Regions from separate parts of the Homo sapiens genome. Here region 2 is linked to region 1. Evidence: fine-mapped expression QTL. A gene starts in region 1. The other region holds a variant in brackets. All regions are shown on one strand. Distances are between the middles of the regions.

Region 1 (8,515 bases):
TTAGTAGATGATGAAAATAAGGATGATACCCAGGGTTAGCCAAATTAGGTATTCATTCATTCACTCACTCATTCAAGAAATATATGGCAAGTATGTGTGCTCAGCTATTGGTCAATTCCAGGCCTTGTGGGAAACCTGGCCCCTCTGAAGCCGGCGCAGAACTGCATTTTAGTTGTTTGAAACTGTGAGCTACTAGAAAGCAGGGACTTGACATCCATGATACACATCCCCTTTGTGTCTAGTACTGTGTTCCTTTACGTGGTAGATGCTGAGTTTGTATTCCTAGAACTGAATCAACAAATTCCAATACAATGTAAATATCTTCTAAATTCTGACTGACTCATGAAGGAAGATGCATAATATAATTAACAGAAATAATAATATCAACATTGATCCATCATAGATTTATGTAGTGCATTTCAGTTTACCAATGGATTTCCCATATGTTAACTTATTTAATTTTTAAAATGTTAACTTATTTAATTTAAAAATTTTTAACAATCATTTTTGTCCTACAAATAAGGGAAAGGCGTGTGTTTCCTAAGCAGTCTCAAGCTTGACCTCTATCACTTGGCCTTTCAAAGAAATCAGCTTTGCTCTGCCAGTCTACCAAGCTGTAGTTGGGCATCGGCCGTGAGTAGTGATGACCCGGCTTACCAAAGCATCTGAGAATATTGATTGATGTCTATTGGAAGATTTGATCCATTCAAAGTTTTTTTAAAAATCGATGGCTATTATTTGGGAAGGACTACCTTGAGGGATCACATATATAAAAAAGCATTACTAGAGACTAGTATTTTGAGAAGAGGAATTATTTGAACATTTCATCAGATAAACAGACAAGCAGAAGTAAGGAGAAAAACAGTTCCCCATCTTTGTGCTTTAAATTATCAGTTAGCAGTGGGGCTTTATGCCTCAGTTTAAGGCAAACCATGTCTATTTTAAACATGCTCGCAGGATAGCTTTTTTCCACATCTATTATGAAAACATTTTAATGTCTTCTGTAATTCTTATTCATATGTAATTATGAATGTCTCACTAAGCGATAGAAATTTTGTGTAAACTGTATTTTACATAGAAATAAAAATCACAAGAATCATCAATGGTATAATACACTAAAGACATCTCTCTAAAGTGTAGCATACAAAATATAATTTATAACATTGCTCATTGAGACCTAGAATATTTTCCCTCACTATCTGGAACTTCTAAGAAATAGGCATAAGAAAGAATGGGACATTTTTCCACAGTTGATGACATGGATGGTGGAGTACCTGGAGATATATGTAGTGTTAAACAAACAGGTAAACATGTAACAAGCAAACCAAAAACCCAACAGCCAAGCCAGAGCTTTCTATCTACTTTCCCTTCTCTTTATAACCACTGGAACCTCTTCACAGCTAAGATGGTTAATATTTTCATAGTACATATTCCTATTCATTTTTACAAGTAGAGTTCTTTTTATGTATAAGACTTTTCTTTACAGAATACTTTTTAAATGGGAAATAAGATGCTGCGCACTTGTGAATATCACATTTTGCTTTTTTTTTTTTCACCATCTTAAATAAAGTCTAAATGAGAGAGAGACAGAGAGAAGTATTTTCAGTCCAAATACATAGGGCATGAAAATCTCACACACACATGCATAGAACAACTTCAGAGCTTAAATTGTTTTATCCCTGTTGAAGGGCTGTTGTTGAATTATGTGTAGGGTGGAGAAAGATGACTGGATTAAAAAAATGTCCTTTAGCTAACAAAGATCTAGATTGGAATTTAACTTGAACCAGTTTGAGTGATATTCCAGAGGCTTTTATTGCTGGAAATAATATTGAATGGAAAACAGTTAAGCTAAGTGGAAATATTTTATATCATAGGATGCCATATTCTGGATTATAATTATATGGCTTTTGCATTCGGTTCCCATTATGAACTTGTGAAAGATCCTTTTCTTCTTATGCAGAGCCTTGGCCTCATTTGTAATAACAGCTCCTGATGCACAGCTTTTGTGAAAATTTCTGCTTTTACTTTTTTAAGGTAAACTCAGTGGTATGTACGTGTAAGGAAGTAGGGAGATTGGCCACGTTGACTAAATCCATTGTCAGGATCTGTGTGTTTTCACGCTCTCTCTCTGAGGTAAAGAATGAAGGCTCCCTTCAAGAGAACACAGCGTGACTACTCCAACTGTCTTCTCTGGCCTCTTTTTTGTCATCATTTTTTTTTTTTCGTTTTGTCCTGAAGATGTAAGCTGCTGTTGTCTAGAGGGAGTGGAAAAGGTTTTTCTTAGGGATGTTAATTTCAAGGCTGAGTAGTTTCCAGTCACCAGGCCTTGCTGGAAGTTTCCTTCAAGATTTGCTTGGAGGCAGCAGGGGCCTATTTGTCTCACCTGCAAGGAACATGGCCTTAAAAAAAATAACAAGAACTTTTGGAAGCTTTTTTAATTAGCACCTTGGAGTCTTTGGCTTTAGACTGCTGATTTGTTAATTCTTGTGGTGATTTTCTTCCTGGTGCTGTGTGTTTAAAGTACTAAATCGTGAATTTCCCGTACAGTCTTCAAAGCTTTTCACTCAAGTGGCCAAATAGGTTTACGTTAGTGTCTTGAGCATGACACATATTTCAGAAATAATATTTGTTCTGGCATAGCCTAATAACTATAAAATTGAGATGCAAACCAGAAAAAATTTCTTTAAAGTCCGTAATGCCATTTTAGAGGGAAATATTCTTTATTCCCTAGACAGAGTAAGAAGCTGCTCTTGTCCAAATTATGAGTTGTGAAACCTTCAGACATAAAAGAAAGCAAAATTGTTGACATGTTATTGGGACATAACTTTTCTCCCCAGTGTTTCTTTGTTGTAGAGAGAATAAGGAAAAGTAAAACAGCAGCAATCTTTCTACAATATTCTTACAGAGGAAAAAGAATTAGAGGGAATATGCTACCCAAGTTTACACCTGCTTTGTAATTCTTTGGTCTCCAGTTTGACACCATTAAGGAAAGTGAGGATTTCAGCCAATTACAGCTGATGGTTTCATTGTATTTCTTTTTTTCCGATGGTATCACATCCTATATTTCTTTACGTATTGTCTCAGACATACATGCATGTAGTTGGATAATGGGATATTCAACATAGCTTACCGCCACCTCACCAAATTATTAAGCTATTTCAAAACAAGAAATAATGCTGAGGGAAAATTTGTATTAGCTTGATTGATTATCTTATTTTAATCCATATTAAAGCTTTAAGTCTCTAGGCGTGGCTCTTTACTTCTAACACCTCATAAATTATAGCTATAATGAAGCAGTCATTTATCCTGAGCTGATGATAAATGGCTTGCCCTAGGAGGAACTAAAGAATAGGCAAGTAGATCATTTTCATATTTGGTGAAAACAATATTAAGTACCCAGACCTCAGTGATTGCCCTAATAAATGAATAATCTGAGGTGAGGGGCTTGGCAGTCAGTGTAAAAAATAACCTGAGCTTTCTCTGTCATTTGTCAGGCTTTGCTATGACAGCATGCATTATGGGTAAATGAGCAATCAGCAAGAACTATGTTATGGCTGGGATGTTTTTGAGAAATTTATCATATGCATTGCTTAGTACCTTAAGACCTTAAGGCTTAATGGCTATAGTGCATGACTGCAAGTGAGCACAGTTCCTATTTACCATGGTATGCTTCATTTGTGCTCCATCTCTCACCTTAAAGAAAGAAAAGACCTTTCGTGATTGAGCTTCATTTGGCTTTGCTTTCAAAATGTTAAGGTCTTTATATGATGTTCTCTCTGTTGACAGATACTACTCCTGGTAGATTGGCTACAGGAGATTTTGGAGTCGTGATTTCAAATAAAATTTCAGGGTCAAAAATTTATCATGGTATGGAGGTGTCAAAATCTGGATTCCAGTGTACCTGAAGCCAAATGTATTATGGAAAGTGACATTACCTCCTTATAATAGTATTAAATATTTAATGGTACTTAAGAATTAAATGATTTTCCACCCTCCTCAAACCACCGAACAGTTGATCTCTTTCATTTATTACGGAATTGGAAATAATCAAGAGTAGTTGAGATGTGAATGCTTCATTGGAATTATGCAATGTGTTATGACAATGTCTGACTCATTATGGTTTGCTGCCATATGCAGTGAAAAAGGAAATCAGGATGCAAACTCCTCTTCCCAGGCCAGGGGTCTCACATGCACACTCCTGTGGATGCTATTCTAAAATATTTGATTAAAGATAATGTGGCTTTACCAGTACCTCTCTTGCCATAATATCCCAAATTTACAGGTGCCTTTGAAGTTAGATGTACACTGAATTAAAAATCTGGCTTTACCCCTAGTTGGATAAATTTGTTTATTAGTTACTCTGAACATCATTTTACTCCTGTGTAAAATGGTGAAAACACTGTCTTGAAGGATTGTTGTGTGGCACAAATGAGATAATGTATAGAAGATGCTTAGCATGTGATGGGCGACCTATAAATAAATACTAAGTTAGTTCTATATCTTCTTAAAATCCTGGTCAGGCACCTAAGCATTCCCACAACGTATAACACGAGTGGCATTTTACAAGATATGGTAGCAAGGCTAGTTGCTCAGTATATTAGATCAAGGAGCTCATGAGACAAATTCAATTACATGAAAATATTTTTTGAATGTCTACTATAGGTCAGGTTCCAGTGATGACCTAAAGATCACCTCACCATTGGTTGCCATCATCACTATAATAGCTTCTAATTTCTCCCCTCTCCTAGCTCTCATCCATAGCAGTTTCCAGTTGAATTTCCAAACTACAGATCTGATCACACCATGACTCCTAGTTGCCCAGCCATTTAGCACCACAAACAAGGGTTTAAATAATACACTTCTGACTTACCATTTCAGCTTCATTTCTTGCCTTCTCTTTTATGCCTATATTCCAGCTATGCAGAGTTACTCACCAATCTTTCATTTGTAGGTCACATTTGTGCTTTTTCTTTGCCTAGAATGTACTTCCTTCCACTCAACTGTCTTGGCATGGCCAAATCCTTGTTCGAGATGTATTTCAAATTTGAGCTCTGGTGTGTAGCCTTTCCAGTCTTTCCAGGTGGAGATGGTTTTTCTTCCTCTTAGTTGTTTCCTGAATACTTTGTGTGTAATAAACCACTCATCATGTTGTGCTGTAAACATCTGTTTGTGTGCTCTGCTTCCCACTATGGATTCCTTGAAGACAGTGACAGAGTTGACATTTTTACTTCTAGAAATTAACATGGTACCTGGAACACAGTAGACGCTTTATAAAGGTACTTTGTAAACATAAGAATCAATGAGAAAGGTATGATTCTGCCTTTCTTTGGACATCTCAAACTCAGAGTCAGAAAAGTTCTTGGTGGGGGGAGATAGTAGATAACCATCCACCTCTTCTTGTGATCTTAACCTACAAAGCCTCACATCCTGCATTATTCATCTGTTCCCTCCCCCAGTCAACTAAAATTTACAAAATGCCTGCTTTGCCTGGCCACCTTCTAGCTACTGAATGAGAAGGTGCATTTTTATAGGAGAAGATGGAGGTGGAGCAGGAGAACTCTAGGGCATGGGTGGCAGAGGGCACCAATAAGACTTAATTCTTCCACCCTTGGGAATTGTAGACATCTTCACAAGGGGTCAAGAAATTGGGTGGTTCAGAGCAATTTCTTTTACATCTCAAGGATGAGGACGACTTGAACTAATGTAGAATCTTCTAGATTGTAGATAAAATGAAGGAGTTGGATTTCAATATTTTACAATGAGGATCCCTTTTCATAACATAAAAAATTCTTAGACCTGTAAGTATTTATTTGTTGACAAAATTATACTGAAAAAAATAACTGAAAATTCAGTAACTGTTAATTAATTTTCCACTTAGTGAACCACAATGGCATGTGCAGGGAGTGCCTAAAGCTTGGTGCACCCCCTGAACAAGCCATCCTGATAGGGATGAGGGCAGTAGCACTGCATAGTCATTAGGAGCATGGGCTTTTGAATCAGGCAGACTTGGGTTCAAATCTTGGTTCTGACACCAGGTATATGATCATGAGAAGCTCTCTCAGTCTTTATTTCCTTAACTGAAAAAACAGTAATAGTGACCTCACAGTGGGTGCAGGTGTGGGATTTAAGATAATAAAGGTAGATAAAGATAACGCACAACACACATAACTACTACCCACTTAATTATCAGGAAAGGGAGGGTAGCTTAGCAAGTTCTATGATGTAAACTCAGGGCAAGGTGGCTCTGTGGAAGACCAGGCTTATTTGTGTAGCGTGGAGAGTGTCTGTATTAGTTCGGTTTTATGCTGCTGATAAAGACATATCTGAGACTAGGAAGAAAAAAAGGTTTAATTGGACTTACAGTTCCACATGGCTGGGGAAGCCTCAGAATCATGGCAGGGCAAGTGGCAAGAGAAAATGAGGAAGAAGCAAAAGCGGAAACTCCTGATAAACCCATCAGATCTCGTGAGACATAGTCACTATCATGAGAGTAGCAAGGGAAAGACTGGCCCCCATGATTCAATTACCTCCCCCTGGTTCCCTCCCACAACACGTGGGAATTCTAAGAGATACAATTCAAGTTGAGAGTTGGGTGGGGACACAGCCAAACCATATCATTCCACCCATGGCCCCTCCAAATCTCATGTCCTCACATTTCAAAACCAATCATGCCTTCTCAATGGTCCCCCAATGTCTTAACTAATTTCAGCATTAACTCAAAAGTCCACAGTCCAAAGTCTCATCTGAAACAAGGCAACTCCCTTCCACCTATGAGCCTGTAAAATCAAAAACAACCTAGTTGCTTCCTAGCTACAATGGGGGTACAGGTATTAGGTAAATACAGCCATTCCAAATGGGAGAAACTGGCCAAAACAAAGGGGTTACAGGGCCCATGCAAGTCCAAAATCCAGTGGGGTAGTCAAATTTAAAGCTCCAAAATGATCTCCTTTGAATCCAGGTCTCACATCCAGGTTACACTGATGCAAGAGGGGGTTCCCATGGTCTTGGGCAGCTCTGCCCCTGTGGCTTTGCAGGGTAGAGCCTCTCTCTTGACTGCTTTTATGGGCTGGCACTGATTGTCTGCAGCTTTTCCAGGTGCACAGGGCAAGCTGTCGGTGGATCTACCATTCTGGGGTCTGGAGGATGGTGGTCCCCTTCTCACAGCTCCACTAGAAAGTGTCCCGGTAGGGACTCTGTGTGGGGGCTGTGACCCCACATTTCCCTACTGCACTGCCCTGGCAGAGGTTCTCCATGAGGGCCCCGTCCCTGCAGCAAACTTTTGCCTGGGCATCCAGGCATTTCCATACGTCTTCTAAAATCTAGGCAGAGGTTCCCAAACCTCAATTCGTAACTTCTGTGTACTCACAGGCTCAATGCCACTTGGAAGCTGCCAAGATTTGGGGCTTCCACCCTCTGAAGCCACAGCCCAAGCTCTATGTTTGTTCCTTTCAGCCATGGCTGGAGTGGCTTGGACACAGGGCACCAAATTCCTAGACTACAAACAGCATGGGGACCCTGGGCCCACCCACAAAACCACTTTTTCCTCCTGAGCCTCCAGGCCTGTGATGGGAGGGGCTGCCATGAAGGTCTCTGACATGGCCTGGTTACATTTTCCCCATGGTCTTCCTACTTATGCAAATTTCTGCAGTTGGCTTCAGTTTCTCCTCAAAAAATGGGTTTTTCTTTTCTACTGCATCATCAGGCTGCAAATTTTCTGAACTTTTATGCTCTGTTTACCTTTTAAAATGGAATGCTTTTAACAGTACCCAAGTCACCTCTTGAATGCTTTTCTGCTTAGAAATTTCTTCTGCCAGATACCCTAAATCATCTCTCTCAAGTTCAAAGTTCCACAGATCTCTAGGGCAGGGGCAAAATGCCTCCAGTCTCTTTGCTAAAACATAGTAAGAGTCACCTTTGCTCCAGTTTCCAACAAGTTCCTCATCTCCATCTGAGACCACCTCAGTCTGGATCTTACTGTTCATATCACTATCAGCATTTTTATCAAAGCCATTCAACAAGTCTCTAAGAGGTTCCAAGCTTTCCCACATTGTCCTGTCTTCTTCTGAGCCCTCCAAACTGTTCCAATCTCTGCCTGTTACCCAGTTCCAAAGTCATCGGGTATCTTTTCAGCAACACCCCACTCTACTGGTACCAATTTACTTGTTTTCATGCTGCTGATAAAGACATACCCGAGACTGGGAAGAAAAAAAGGTTTAATTGAGCTTACAGTTCCACATGACTGGGGAGACCTCAGAATCATGGCGGGGGGTGAAAGGCACTTCTTACATGGTGGCAGCAAGAGAAAATGAGGAAGAGGCAAAAACGGAAACCCCTGATAAACCCATCAGATCTCATGAGACTTATTCACTATCACGAGAATAACACGGGAAGGACCAGCCCCCATGATTCAATTACCTCCCCATGGGTTTCTCGGACAATGCGTGGGAATTCTGGGAGATAGAATTCAAGTGGAGATTTGGGTGGGGACACAGCCAAACCATATCAGTGTTGCTCA
Region 2 (8,515 bases), 28 kb before region 1:
TTGTGTTCAGCTTAAAAACTTCTTAACTTGTTTTTTTAACCGATGTTTTCTGTCATCCTGGGGTGATGATTTGCTTTTTTGGGGGGGCAGGTGTTATTTATTTTTATAAAGTTTAATTCTTTTTCTGGTTAAAACAGAAATGTACACTCTCTTTTTGTTGACTTGTGAAGTACAGAAACGTGTTTTAAGATTTTGTGCCATGTATTGTTAATGAGGATAGCAAAAACAAAACTCAACAAAACAACAACAAATAACAAACAAGCCCCCCCGCCCCAAGAACTCAGAAACACCAGGAAAAATGGCATCTTTTAATGTGTTGATCCTTGACACTCTGCAGACAGTAGCAGCAAAAAACACACATCCACAAATATGCCCCTTAATCTTCAGAGAGGAGCCTCCTGAAAAGCACAGGCTTCTAGGATGTGGCTCAGAAACAGCTTATCTCCCTTCATCTCCTTTTTGAAGAACAAAAACCACCCACCTCATTGGTTACCAGGTCGCCCTATCATCAACCAACCAGCTTGGACAAACACAGCAGAGAACACTAAAGGATCCTATACTTTGACTAGTGGAAGGAAAAATGGCTGGTGATATAAAAGGCCAACTTATTTACGTAAAGAGGTATTATAAATGGTACGGGCAAAGTGACTAAAGAGATGAGAAAAAAAGTGGGAAAGAGAAGGAGAGGAATGGCAGCCACAGGGGAAGGGGTTGGGGGAGCAGTGGACTGAGAGCAGATGAGAAGGAGGAAGAGCAGTGTAGGGCCAGCGAGCCACCTGTATACACCTTGTAAATCCTTTTGTTCCTACTTCTGGGAAGTACTCCAGTAGTACTTGAAGAACTCAGATTGCAGTGTTGAAGGCAAGCTAGCAGGTAGAGCCCAATGCTTTGAGGTGGAGATTAGGATGGAAGGTATTCATGGGACAGTATATGTGATAAAGAAGCTCTTTCAATTAAATAAAAAGAAGACAGCACTAGCTTGCTTGAAAAAACACAATTATATTTGAATTCTTCACATGTCAATATGTTAGTCTTTGGCAACCTACAGAAAACCATCATCATACTTTTTTTATACCAATAGTGATGACTCCACTTTGACCAAAAGGCGAATCAATGTAGAAAAAAGTCCATTGTCTTCACTGTGGAAAGTACATCGAATCTGGAGTCAGATGGATTAGCATTCAGGCCTCTTGGTAGTTTTCTGATATTGGACAATTTACTTACTCTGTATTTGTTTCAGTTAAAAAATGGGGAATTTGTCTTAACATTTTTGTGAGTATTAAAATAAGAGATTTTAAAGGTGCCTGGCACAGTGCCTGGGACAGAGTATGTGCTCAATTATATTAGTCACGTTCCTGCCTTGTCAAGAGCTTTTCAGGTCCCTATAAGGAAAAGGCCATAAAATTTAGAAGACATTAGGCATGAGTTTTAGTGGTTATATCACCAAATGTGTCTGCTTTCTAAATTTGTGCCTGAGAATCAGGCAAATTTTTTTTTTTTTTTTTTTTTTTTTAGGTAAGAGAAAATCTGAAAATGAGACGTTTCATTCACCTCCATATCTTTACTGCTCAGACACATTGGCTGATATCTGCTTGGCTTTACTTCCAGTGCTTTCTCTAATTGCAGAGGCATGTGAAGGCCGTAATCTTTAGAAGAGCCTTCAAAGCCTTGCATGGTCTGGCCCTGCCTGTCTTTCCAGCCTCACCCTTGTGACCGTCTCCTCCACTGTCTATGCTCCAGCCACACTGGGCTTCATTCTTTCCTCCACCAACCCAAACTTTCTCCTTTCTTAGGGTCTTTGTTACCTCTGCTTGAGATACTGTTCCTAGACGCCTCCCTTTCCTTCTTGTTGCTGCTCATCTCTGTCTCTTGCACACACACACACACACACACACTCACATCCCTATCTATGTGAATTCCTACTTGCTTTATATCTCACCTTAAGTGTCACTTCCTGCCTGAGACCCTAGCGTATGTTAGATTTGCTGGTCAAAAGCTTTTCCAGCATTCCTCCTGCTACTTATCACATTTATGACTAATTAGTTATCTTGGTAGATGTTGGCTAATGTCTGTCTTTCTGGCTACAGTATTAGTAAAGACAGGGATTATGTTTGTCTGAATCACTACTGTGGCCCTCCCATTCAGTTCTATGCCTGGTACATAATAGGTGATCAACAAATATTTTGGTGAATAAATAATGCTAGATGCAGAAACAAATTAGTGACTACATCATTGTAGCATTACAAGATTGTGGAGTCCTACTGTGTTCCACATCAATAACTGCTGGCTCTGTATGGTTAATCTGTGCTCTCTGAATTGTAAAATGACCCAGTATGGTTAAAAATGGGCCTAAAATGACGTAAATGGTTTTTATCACAGAGGAACACCCCCAGATATTTGTTCACAAAGGAAGCTGGTTTAGCCTAGGAATTGGCATCCCTTCTCCTGTATAGTTTTTTTAAGCCATAATACTCAAGTCTATCAAATATCCTAGCACAATACACACAACCTTAGGGAAGTGGCAGGCACCAGTCGCTATTCCCGTGGGTGGTTAAGCCTTTGGTATCTGGGAACAACTGAAGGGTAGTAATTGGTGATACTTATTGTCTGAACATAACTCAATCTTGGCTTAGCTTGGGAAGTATTCGTACCCTCACTTGTGGGGGTGCTTGGCCAAAGGCAGAGGTGTCCCTATAGGTCACTCTGAGGCATTTTTATCTGCACAATAGCTATTAACAAGTAATGGGAAAAGTGGAGATAGGCTGGTTACTCTAGGTGGCTGTAAAACAAGTGTAGATAGGACACAAAGGAGCAGCAGAGTGAGTACACATGACAAAAACCATACCGCATATTGAATTCTGCCTTGACAATATCATTCTTCTACAGTTGTCAATATTAATACTTTTCTATAAGGAAATGGAATGACATTAATGATACATGCAACATCCTTTATGTAAAAATGCCCCAAATCCAAGAGCCTTCCAGAGCACCAGGAAAAGTTTCAGAGCCATTGGATGTCTCTCTTTGTCAGATGCCACGGTGTCAGGCTCCGAGCCATTTGTCATCCCTGAATTTCATTATCTGCTCCTTCCCTGTCTTTCATTCTCAGTTTGCTAGGACATTTGTTCACCGTTGACCTCCCTGACAAATAATACACCTTAATTATGTTGGCAAGAGGGGATATGTCATTCCTGGGCCACTTTAATTGTCTATCCGACAGGCATCCTGCTGTGGCATGTAGCTTCTGTGGTATTTTGACTGCAGTGGTAGGACTATCCTGTGCTTGCGCTTTGTCTAGAGATAGTCTCAACTTTTACAGGTTCTGAAGATAATATGTCTTATTGAAGCCGTGTATCACTTTTGTTTTGCAGTTGCTAAAACAAGCTCTCACATTAATTTGGTGGAAACAGTACAGATTGGCTATCTACAAGGTTTGCCTTGGAAAGCAAAAAAAAAGTCTGCATAAGGATTTAGAATGAAGTAAATACTGAAATAACTACAAAGGTTAAGAAGAAAGGTGTTTGGGCATATCAGGAAGCTCCACAAAGGAAAAACAGCTGACTGCAGCTCCAGGAGCAGGACGCAGAGCCTCTAGTTTAAGTCA[G/A]CTAATCCTTTGCAAGAAACAGAGAAGTGCTCTTGGCCAAAGATTAATCTTACAATTCCATTCTCACATAAAAATCCTGCAGCCTATAACAATCTTGACTTCGGGACTCAGAAAAAAATTCTCTTTTATACCTTGCAAGGATTTGGATCATTGATGGTCTTCATTTTGGCACTTGTTTGTGTTTACTCCAAGATTTTTGTGCAATTCTTTGCCCATGGGAGAATGACGGGGCGCAAAGATAAAAGCTGATGAGGGTCTCAGCAGCACTTCGAAGTTGTGGGAGCCAGTTACCATTTGGAGTTCTCCTTTGACAGGGGTAGATGCCTTAATTTGAAATGCCATTTAACTAGGAATCTACCTAGACCTTTGCAGTGTGAAGACTTCCTATTGCAAATGAAATTGTGTGTGTGTGTATATATATATATATATATATATATATATATATATATATATATACACACACACACACACACACACACATCTTACTTATCCAGACCTCTAGGCACATATTATGTCGCATGTAGGAGTTTATTAACATGAGTATTTCTAAAAAGAAAGCTATTTTATCCATAGCAGCAGGTAAAATTTTAGTTTGTTGGCACAGTCCGTTGTCTCATCTCTCTTTTCTTCTGCCTAACCTGTCTTTGCCGGTTTTCTCATCAGTGGAACATGTTGCCTGTGAGGTTAGGGGAGAAAAAGAAAAAAAAAAAGAACAGCATCAACAAAAAATAGCATCTTCTTCCACTCAACCTGCAAGGCTTCACAAGGGTAATCTCAAAGGTCACCTGGCTCCTGTTTTGGCCAAGAATATGTGGATTAGGGTCACAGGAGGGCGAGATTTTAATTTCACAAAAATATGTAAAGGGAAGGGGGAGAAGGGGGAGAAAAAAAAGATTACTTGCAGAGAGCATGAGTACCAAGGGAGGCATGCTTAGGTGACTAACGACACCTCTATCAGAAGAACAAACTCGATCTGCATCAAGCATTGAGACAGATGAGGCCAATTTCACACAGTAAATTTCTTGGCCATGATTGATGTGCCCCTGCCGCTGAATGTGAGCAAGCTCTCTCCGCACCTGTCAAGCACCGGGCAGACAGGGATCTATCAAAGCGTTATTGATGACTTTACACTGTACTCTGCAAATAAAATGTAATGGGCTAACTGGAACATAGATCTGAGTGATGTTACTTATATATTAAATATGTCACATCTGTAGAACAAATGGTGGTTAGATAAGAGTTATCATCTTCAGGGCTCAATAAATATTTTATCAAGCATAATGGAAATTGTCAAATCAATCTAATTGTGTAATACATTATGAAGACATCAAAATTAAACAAAGCACATATGCTATCATTTCATTTTATTAGTGGGCCACTGTTGTGCCCAGGAGGTCTTGTGGTGGTTGAAGGCTGGCAGAGTTAATACTATATATATGTTTCCCTTTCCTCTCCCTCTGCTGCTTATGGAACTGGCTAGATATTTCATCAAAGTATTAATTTCTCAAATGCAGACAACTTCAAGGCATAATTAGATTAGGGAGAACAAAGCTGCGAAAAGTGGCATCAAGCCACAAATTCACTTTAGCCATATTTAGAGCAAATATCTCTGTGCTTCCATTTCATTTTATTTATCTTTATCTGATTTTATACTGTTGCAATAAAAAAAAACCCAACATGAGCAAGAATTATCTTTGAGCCAGAGACATCCATGCTAGCTCCTAACTAGCAGCAACTGATGTTTCAAAATACCTTTGTCGTTTTTGTTATTGGTGGTTAAAAACCACTTGAGGTTTCCCTCCTCCTCCCCCTTTTTTTTTAATTGGCAAGCTAGGTACTTTACAAAGACTATGGAAAGGATTACAAAATCTGGCAAGACTGGCTTTGGCTTGGTGAATTTTAAATATGCATTTAAGGAATGATTGCGTCTTTCTTTTCTACCCGATTTAAGACAGCTATTAGATTCGGAAAAAAAAAAAACTTCGACTTTTTAGTCACTATTTTTAATGTGCTAAGGAAACATTACCATTTCATCCATGTGTCCATTAAAAGAAAGGGCAGCCCGTATTCCTGGCCTTAGAAATTCTCAGTTTGGCTTGTCACTGTGATCAAATTCAGTCCCAGGGTGCATAAGAGGAAGGTCATGAAACATCCTGTGCCCAGTTTTTCCAGAAGCAAAATGGGAATAACTTAAAAAAACACTTCAACCGTCTTGATAAAGTTGGGCCAGGGGACAAAGTTTGCTGCTTGTCAGGGTTAGAACTAAAATGGTTATATTAGGATAATCATGAAAGATACTTATTTCAATATTAAATGACTTTCAGAATGAAGTGCAACCATTGGCAACAAATAAGAGCACAAATTGTCTTTTTTCCCCTATAGAATTATATGCTATGTTATCATTAAAAGGAATTTCAAGTGATTTGTATGTGCATTTGTTACCAATAAATACATGGACTCTGTTCTGATTGTTTACGTGCTGTGTTAGTAATTCAGACTGTTGGCCTGAGGAGAATACAGTAGGAGTTGTTCAGGCTTTAAGAATCACAAAAACTGAAATTGGAACTCAGCTTGGCCCCTACTAGCAATGAGATCTAGGGTAATACATGTAACTTTATCGAACCTCAGTATTCTATTCTGTAATATGGGATAATAGTATCTACCTACAGATTTTATGAGGTAGGCAGACAGATATCAATATAGATTGATTAGATACCATCATAATGGGTGGTTAAGTACTAGACACTAAGCTAATATATATCAGTTATCTCTTCTCACCTGCAGAATCATTCTGGGGGCAAATATTAATCCACATTGATGACATAGGTTTCAGAGAGCATAAAAAACTCAGAGTTTTTGTATCTTCCAAATGATTTCTCTTCTTTGGTGGAGGATTAGCAGTTATTACACAAAACATGGGCTGCCAACCTCAAACCCTGCTTTTAACACCAAGGTTTCACATAATAGAGTTTTTAGCATTAGGGAAAAAGCAGTTACTTTATATCTAATCATAAATATATATGATTGTAACAATATAATTTATATAATATTGATAAAAATTAAGCTGTTGCAATAAAACTGTCCCATCAACCCAAGGTGGTATATTACCATTCTGTTGACATTCCATTTTCAAGGATATTTTATGTTGGGTTGTAAGTACAGACTGACATCTATATTAATAAACCGTATATTGAAAAAAGGAAAGAATGATAGGGGTGTTGGGTAAGTGGCTTTTTCTAGTATGGAGCATTAGGCTGGAAGGCTGGACTTCAGGAACTGACGTTTACAAAATACCAAAGATAGTAATGAAGTTTGTTGTTGTTTGCTCTCTCGGCTGACTTTAGACAGTTGTCTTCCTAGTGGGATTGCTTGGAAATTATTATTGATGCAGATCCTTCCACAAGGTCTATTTAAACCTCTCCCTTCAATGTGCCACTACAAAAGAAATTCATCTTGTGAATGAGAGGTGGCACGTGGTGACTGACTAAATTGTTTGACATGCTCATTAGCATTCTCAAACCTGGACCATTTCTACCTAAGCTACTGACCCAATCTGTCCTGTTGAGTCGTGCTCATAGGAAAAGGGAGGAAAGATGCGAGCGTATTCTTTCTCTCTGAGAACCTGTCTATAGATTCAATTATCTATCTATCTATCTATCTATAGATATAATGAATACTACATATATATAGTATTTATTCTTCCTTCTCTTTTGCTATATGTGTAATTGGCTTCCCTCTCTTGTACCCAAAACTAATAGTGTCTGGTATTTTGTTTTTGTTTTTGTGTTTTTTCTAAGAGGGAGTCTGGCTCTGTCACCAGGCTGGAGTGCAGTGGAGCAATCTCGGCTCACTACAACCTCTGCCCCCCAGATTCAAGTGATTCTCCTACCTCAGCCTCCTGAGTAGCTGGGACTACAGGTGTGTGCCACCACACCCGGCTAATTTTTGTATTTTTAGTAGAGACAGGGTTTCACTGTGTTGGCCAGGATTGTCTCGATCTCCTGACCTCATGATCCACCCACCTCAGCCTCCCATAGTGCTGGGATTACAGGCATGAGCCACCACGCCCTGCCGTATCTGGTGTTTAAACATATTTCTTCCTTCGCCTAACCTGTAGGACAGCAAGAAAGTAGTGACTTCTTAATGTTCTCAAAATCGTGTTGCTGAATTTCAAGTTTCACAATATTTAGGGATAGTGGTCTCTCTTTTCTCTTTTTTCAGTGGCTGGGAACCTCATATATTCGCTCTTGTGTTTTTGGCTAGCCTGTGGATTAGGATGAAGGCCAGATAAATCAGCAGTTTGTAGATAGGGTGATCATTCTGATCACCAGAGAAGTTTCAAAAGTACAAATTCCTGAATCTACTTCCAGACAGCCTTATTTACCTTAGAGATCTAATGTAGAAATCAGGATTCTGTATTTCTGACAAAGCTTCCAAGATTACTTTTGATTCTCTCACAGGTTGGAACCACTGTGGTGGACCTCCTTTTGGAAACCAGGAGACTGTTGGATGCTAATGACTCCTTCTCTAGGTTTTTCTCTGATTTAAAAATCTTTGACATTTGGCATGGTATCTGGGTGGTGTCTACATATTGATAACTACCAGGTAGGGACAAAGTAGGGGCCTAGTAAATATTTTGATTGATTTTTAGAACATGTGACATATTTGTCTTACCACAATAGTAAGCAGTCATTAAGACCTTGTCTTTGAACTTTATGTCGGTTAAACACATGATTAGGATTTTCTATAAATTGAACAATTTGAAAAAATGAACACTAAGGCTTATATTACTTTCTTTCCCTCCCTCTCTTCTTCCTTCCTTCCTTCCTTCCTTCCCCCTCCCTCCCTTTCTTCCTTTCCTTCCCTTCCCTTTCCTTTCCTCTCCTCTCCTTTCCTTTCCTTTCTTTTCTT

Evidence for each region. PIP is the estimated chance that this variant, and not a neighbour inherited with it, causes the effect. A credible set is the group of variants that fine-mapping cannot tell apart.
Region 2: its variant is the best candidate, but not a certain one, in a credible set for the expression of MECOM-AS1 in stomach (GTEx, PIP 0.82).

Annotation. Positions count from the first base shown.
Region 1 is chr3:169,444,291-169,452,805 of GRCh38, reverse strand. MECOM-AS1 (MECOM antisense RNA 1) reads right to left here and starts at 4,939. Exons shown (of 5, transcript NR_134932.1): 1 at 4,871-4,939. The region is part of intron 1 of MECOM (MDS1 and EVI1 complex locus); the gene reads left to right.
Region 2 is chr3:169,472,651-169,481,165 of GRCh38, reverse strand. All of the region lies in intron 1 of MECOM (MDS1 and EVI1 complex locus), which reads left to right. It overlaps MECOM-AS1 (MECOM antisense RNA 1), which reads right to left. Exons shown (of 5, transcript NR_134932.1): 5 at 4,114-4,280. Among named protein-coding and RNA genes, the nearest start is that of MECOM-AS1, 29 kb to the right of the region's middle. The variant G/A (reference allele first, on the strand shown) is at 3,605.